Homo sapiens: one gene and its partner. Changing the gene in region 1 together with any one later gene gives a genetic interaction. Each region holds a gene or a part of one and is shown on either strand. Other genes may lie near its edges.

Region 1 (3,237 bases):
CATCTAGCTTCTGGCAACCAGTAATCTACTTTCTGTCTCCATGGATTTGCCTATTCTAGACATTTCGTACAAATGGAGTTGTAGTATTGTGGCGTTTTGTGTCTGCCTTCTTTCATTTAGCACAGTGTTTTCAAGGTTCATCCACATTGTAGCATGAATCAGTACTTCATTCCTTTTTATGGCCAAATAATATTCTACTAATTGAATATCTCAAATTTTGTTTTTTATTGACTGAACATTTCTGTAGTTTGCACTTGTTGGCTGTTGTGAATAATGCTGTTTGTAATGCTAATTAGCATGTGCGTACATCCTTTGTTCTTAATCTTAGGGGAAAGGCTTTCAGCCTTCATCTTCGAATATGATGTTAGATGTAGTTTTTCTTAGATGCCATTCTTTAGATCAGGTTGAGGAGTTCCCTTCTATTTCGACTTGAGTGTTTTTATCATGAAATGTTGGATTTTGTCAAATGCTTTTTCTATGTCTATTGATGATCATGAGGGCTTGTTTATTAATATAATGTATTACATCGATTGTTCTTTATTAATATGTTATTAATATCTTTGTTCTTTATTAATATGTATTACGTCGATTGACTTTCATATGTTGAATGTTATGATATTCTATAGAGCATATATAATGTTATTTTACTGCTTTGGTTTTATATAATATGAACCAATTTCTCTATATTTCAGGCATTTATTAATACAGCAAAAGAAATTTATGAAAAAATTCAAGAAGGAGTCTTTGACATTAATAATGAGGTATATACATATAAATATTGTTGGTCAATATTAATTTAGAGTTCACTTTTGATTACTATTTTATATTTTTTATTTTATAATTCATTATTTTATAATTTTTTTAATTCCTAAAATCAATCATGATAATCAGTTAACACCATTAGTTTACAGTCATCCAACTGAAAAATTGGTATATGTGGTATAGTAGTTAAATATTTATGTTCTAGTAGAGCAACACTTTGTCTATGGAAATGGATTAAAGTAAGTGGCCCTATCCATTCATTGCAAGCAATGCAAAATAATATAAATCCCCCAAAGAGAAAAGAAAATCCACTTTTATCCACATGACCATATGGTGTCATCTGCTTTGGGAATAATGTTCTGGTATATAAATGCATGTACTATGTACTAATGCAAGATGCTCTCTCTGTTATCTGGCAGGAAAGAGGGAAATACCAAATTTGGAAATTACTCCCAATATAGCATAGCATGTTTTCAGGAGACTAAATTCATATATATATATATAAAATTGGCATTTGGCATAGGGTTTTTTGTAATGTTATTTTGATCCTGTTTTGGTCAACATGATTAGGATAAAATGTAAAGCTTTGAAGCATCTAATTCAGAGTGTTCACCAAAGATCATCACTTGACCCACATCCCCACTCTGCATTTATCTGTATTTATTTCAAAATGTTTATGTGGATGTAGCCTACTTATTCTTACATAAATATTTTTGCCATTCTGTATTAAGATTTCTGGCTTCTGAAAGAAAAGCCCTGGTTTCTCCCCAGTTGCAGTTAGAAAAGCATTGTGTTAGGAAGCCATTATGTATGTCTCTCTCATCCTATACATAAATGAGGCTCTCTATTACTTCAGTAGTCTCTGCTCAGACAAACAGCAGTTTACCTAAGGTTTCCAAAAAGTACATGATTTTTTCATTGTTTAATTTGGAGTAATATAGTTTCTAAATCCTATCTTCTAGGCTTATATGACGGTACTTCTTGAGTTAGTTTAAAGGTGACACCATTCAGAGACTAATGCCATATAAATTGAACAGTAATTGGGCCTCTATCTAAAAGGGCACATTCATTGTTTCTGTCTGGTTTCATATAGTAGCTGACTGCTTTACTGTGCCTTATGCAGCTTTGATTGTAATGTGCTGTTGGGAGCCAACAGGCCGTGCTATTTATTTGGCCTAATGCCAAGTCTGACTCCTTGACTCCTCAAGAAGTTGCTACCAGCCCAGAGGGGGCAAAATCAATGAGCCATAGGGCATGCTTTTTATTAAAGAGGAGTCAAAAGAGCGAAAAGAAACCACATCAGCTGCTGTCAATACTGAGCTAGTGCCAGAAACCCCAAGGCTACTACTGTTGCAGAACAACTGCCAAGCACTATAAATCTGAGATTTACTGTGACGTAAAGTTTCCTTAAGAGCTTAATTTCTGAAGCTACTGTATTACTTTTCTCAAAGTGTTGTATTTTTAGGTAAAATCCACTTGAGGGAGTGAGGGTTAAGACATAAGTGTGAGTTTGATGAATGAAAGAACTACTCTGTGTGTGGGTTCTTGGCAAGCTGCCATGTCTTTGGGGATCATAGAAATTATTGATGACACAGAACACTCATATGCCCTTAGCCTGTACAGCTGATTCAACATGGAACAGAAACACTGTCTAGAGAAAAGATTTTACGTTGTATTAAAGCAGCATGGGCTTTGGGTATTTTTATGCTTTAAAGATTACTTGCAATAATTATTTTAAATGATTTCTGCATTATGAGAATTTCCTGAAAAGCAGCATTATCCAATAACTGTTTACCCCGTACCTGGTATGATAAAGAATTATTTTCAGAAACATTTCCACAGTGTTTTTAAAAGGAAGGAACATCCCTTAGGAGATATTGTTTTAATTGTTGCTAAAATCTACTTGCTGTATTTTTCTCAGTTGTTTGATAAAATTGTATCATAAAGAATTAAATGAGTTTTTTAAGAATTAGTTAAACTATATTGTCTGGTCATATTTATTGTTCTGTTCTCTTTTATTTCAGGCAAATGGCATTAAAATTGGCCCTCAGCATGCTGCTACCAATGCAACACATGCAGGCAATCAGGGAGGACAGCAGGCTGGGGGCGGCTGCTGTTGAGTCTGTTTTTACTGTCTAGCTGCCCAACGGGGCCTACTCACTTATTCTTTCACCCCCTCTCCTCCTGCTCAGCTGAGACATGAAACTATTTGAAATGGCTTTATGTCACAGAAGACTTTAATCCGTCAAATTCTTGTATAACTTTGAATAAATGGTTAATGTTCACTTAAAAGACAGATTTTGGAGATTGTATTCATATCTATTTGCATTTGATTTCTAGGTCAATTGATGTGATTATTTTTGTTAAATGTTGTCTTGTGCCCTTAACTACGAACTGAATTGTATTAAACACTACAAAGTCATCTTGAGTATTTTAAATCGGTTTGTGTAGTTAGGTTTCCCAACATCTGTGGTT
Region 2 (3,658 bases), on another chromosome or scaffold:
ACTCATATTCAGCCTTGCTTATCTTACGATAGGGTTCTCTGTTACTAGAAGCCAAAGGCTCAGTTTATATTCTGCTTATCTCTCCGTCTTTCTCTGTGTGTTTGTCTATTTCTATCTGGGTCCCATTGGGGATAGTTGGGCACTGGTCTCTTATGTGTAGGGTGACATTTGCCTGGGGCATCAGTAACTGGCACAGAATCCCAGGGATACGGGAGGAGGTGTTACAGATATTTGGTTAGGGAAGGAGCTGGAATCAAGATTCTTAGAGCAAGAGTGAAGGGCATTAGAGATGGGGCCAGAAAGGAGAATCCTAGATAATCTTGGCTTTCTCCCTCATATGCCCATGGCAGCCCCTAGTCTGATATGGCCGGTTTTGCATTTCCTCTTCTCTTTCAGTGAGAAATGCAGCTCTGGGGGTGGGATGTAGGAAGAGGGAACTATATAATTTTTACTCATAGGGACATTTTCCTGTGATTTGTCTTTACTCCCTTTCATCATTGTGCTCCCTACTCCCTCTGCAGACAGAATATCTGCGCCATGCGCCTTCTTCCTCCGGTTGTTCTTCCTCATCTCCTGGCTGAACCTACTGTGGTTTTCCTTTATGTCTGATCCCTTCCCCTTTGCGCCTTAGGCTTCACCGTATGTTGTGGACCATGGGGAATCTGGCCCTTTGCGCTGCAACCGCTGCAAAGCATACATGTGTCCCTTCATGCAGTTCATTGAAGGAGGGAGGCGTTTCCAGTGCTGTTTTTGCAGCTGTATCAATGATGGTATGTTCATGGAAGCTGGGATTTGGGGGAAGGTCTTGATTGTATCTTCCTTGTTCTCTATTAAATAGTTAGAGAGATGAGGGTCCATCTTTCAGGAGCTGGGGAAGTAGGGCACATGGGAATGAGGGATAGTGGTGTGAGCTCAGCTAGGGCCAGAATACTAAGATTGAAACTGGATCTTCGAGTAACACACTGCCATGCTTCCCACAGTTCCCCCCCAGTATTTTCAGCACCTGGATCATACCGGCAAACGTGTGGATGCTTATGACCGCCCTGAGCTATCCCTGGGCTCTTATGAATTCTTGGCCACTGTAGATTACTGCAAGGTGAGGGAAGGTAGCATGGGAGGAGCAGTGAGTGGAGGATAATGAGACAGCTGAGAATGGCTGTTATCATTTCCCTCACCCCTTTTTTGTCCCTTTTTGATGCTGACTTCTCTATAGTCAACTGGCCTGCTTACCATTCCCCCTCTCCCCAACATTTTCTTCCTCTGCAGAACAATAAGTTCCCCAGCCCTCCTGCCTTTATCTTCATGATTGACGTCTCCTACAATGCCATCAGGACTGGTCTTGTTAGGCTCCTCTGTGAGGAGCTCAAGTCACTGTTAGACTTTCTACCTAGGTGAGAGTTACAGAACTGAGGTGTTTCCTGAGGTTAATGATAGGGTGTCTGGGTTGACTGAAGAAATGTAGCTTGGTGTCATGAAGTTGTGGGTGGTGGAAAAGGTGGCAAGTCTAGGTAACAATGTCACCTTCTACAGGGAGGGTGGGGCAGAAGAGTCAGCAATCCGCGTTGGCTTTGTCACCTACAATAAGGTGCTCCACTTCTATAATGTGAAGAGCTCATTGGCCCAGCCACAGATGATGGTTGTGTCTGATGTGGCTGACATGTTTGTGCCACTGCTGGATGGCTTCCTGGTCAACGTCAATGAGTCTCGGGCAGTTATCACCAGGTAAGAGCCAGATTGTGGAGGTAAAGGTTGGGGGTGGCATGGGTACCACCATAGAAGGTCATGGAGTTGAACAGAGGTATTGGACAGTAGATGGAAAGGGGTTGTGGCCCAGGAGTTGTCAGATTCTAGAGGCTTGATGACTCTTCAGGGAATCGAGAACTGAGGTATCTGGAATCTGTATAGCAATTTTGGTTGTTTTCCGTCACCTATCTCTTTAGCTTATTGGATCAGATTCCAGAAATGTTTGCAGACACAAGGGAAACAGAGACAGTATTTGTACCAGTTATCCAGGCTGGAATGGAGGCTCTGAAGGTAAGGCTGGAGTATCGGGCAACCTCCTCTAACTCCATTTTCCTCTGACCATCTTATCCCCTGGGATACAACCTCTCTTTCTTCAGTAGTGGGTGACTGTCCAGTGTGTTAGACTGTCTGACATAGCTGGTGCTTAATAAATGACAAGGGAAGAGATGGATGAATAAAGAATAAACAAGTAGTCCTCTCTTTTTTCCTAGGCTGCTGAGTGTGCAGGGAAGCTCTTTCTATTCCATACATCCCTGCCCATTGCAGAGGCCCCAGGGAAACTGAAGAACAGAGATGACAGGAAGCTGATCAATACAGACAAGGAGAAGGTGTGGGACTGGAAAATGGGGGAGGGGAAGGATTTTTCATTACAGAGGAAGTGGGGACTCTACTTTCTTGATGGTGGCTAGGACCAGACACTCCACCCTTTCAAATACCATATCTGTGACTGCCAACCTCCACTGCTGCCATACTTCTCTACTCCATCTGATGCCAAAGCTGTTGGTAGACTCTTGTATTTATTTATTTTTTAAAGAAGAACTTTTGGCCGGGCATGATGGCTCATGCCTGTAATCCGAGCGCTTTGGGAGGCCAAGGCGGGCAGATTTTTGAGGCCAGAAGTTTGAGACCAGCCTGACTAACATGGCAAAACCCCGTCTCTACTAAAAATACAAAAATTAGCCAGGTGTGGTGGCACACACCTGTAATCCCAGCTACTTGGGAGTCTGAGGCAGGAGAATCGCTTGAACCTGGGAGGCAGAGGTTGCAGTGAGCTGAGATCATGCCACTCTATGCCAGCCTGGGTGACAGAGTGAGACCCTGTCTCAAAAAAATAAAAATAATATAAAAGAAAATTTTTTACTATTGGAAAATCCTTGGAAGTAGATCTGAAGTCTTCCATGAATTTGAATATCCCATGCTAGATATACAGTTTTCAAATAGGGCGGAGCTGAGATATTTGAACATTTTCTTCTCCCCATTTTCTTTCCCCCTAGACTCTGTTCCAGCCTCAGACAGGTGCCTATCAGACCCTGGCCAAAGAGTGTGTGGCCCAAGGCTGCTGTGTAGATCTCTTTCTCTTCCCTAACCAGTATGTGGATGTGGCCACACTCTCTGTTGTGCCCCAGCTCACTGGTGGCTCTGTCTACAAATATGCTTCCTTTCAGGTATGGTGTGGGATTTGGGGCAGCAGGTGGCAGCAGGGCTGGGAATATCTGCTTATATATGCAGTGGCTGACTCATTAATAGAAATAGTGTTGGGGCCAGGCACGGTGCCTCACACCTGTAATCCTAGCACTTTGGGAGGCTGAGGCAGGCAGATCACCTGAGGTCAGGAGTTCAAGACCAGCCTGGCCAACATGGCAAAACCCCATCTCTACGAAAAATACAAAAATTAGTCGGGTGTGGTGGCGGGCGCCTGTAATCCCAGCTACTCAGGAAGCTAAGAATCCCTTGAACCCGGGAGGTGGAGGTTGTGGTGAGCCGAGATTGCGCCACTGCACTCCAGCCAGAGCGACAGAGTAAGACTCCGTCTCCAAAAAAGAAGAAATAGTGTTGGAAGAGAAGACTGCATAGTCTGAAGAAGTGAGCCCGAGAATGTGGCAGTTAGGAACATGGGCCTTGGAATCAGTCCTGC

Evidence for each region. Genes that interact genetically often act in the same process or in processes that back each other up.
Region 2: changes in RAB2A (region 1) and SEC24C together harm fitness less than expected from each alone (positive genetic interaction), as found in Homo sapiens cells (one large-scale study listed by BioGRID).

What each region holds. Positions count from the first base shown.
Region 1 is NC_000008.11:60,617,888-60,621,124, forward strand, and holds part of RAB2A (ras-related protein Rab-2A), read left to right. Parts: intron 1-692; coding exon 693-761; intron 762-2,786; coding exon 2,787-2,882; 3' UTR 2,883-3,237.
Region 2 is NC_000010.11:73,764,820-73,768,477, forward strand, and holds part of SEC24C (protein transport protein Sec24C), read left to right. Parts: intron 1-631; coding exon 632-770; intron 771-980; coding exon 981-1,096; intron 1,097-1,266; coding exon 1,267-1,391; intron 1,392-1,530; coding exon 1,531-1,722; intron 1,723-1,940; coding exon 1,941-2,034; intron 2,035-2,234; coding exon 2,235-2,351; intron 2,352-3,017; coding exon 3,018-3,188; intron 3,189-3,658. UniProt on the Homo sapiens protein: Component of the coat protein complex II (COPII) which promotes the formation of transport vesicles from the endoplasmic reticulum (ER).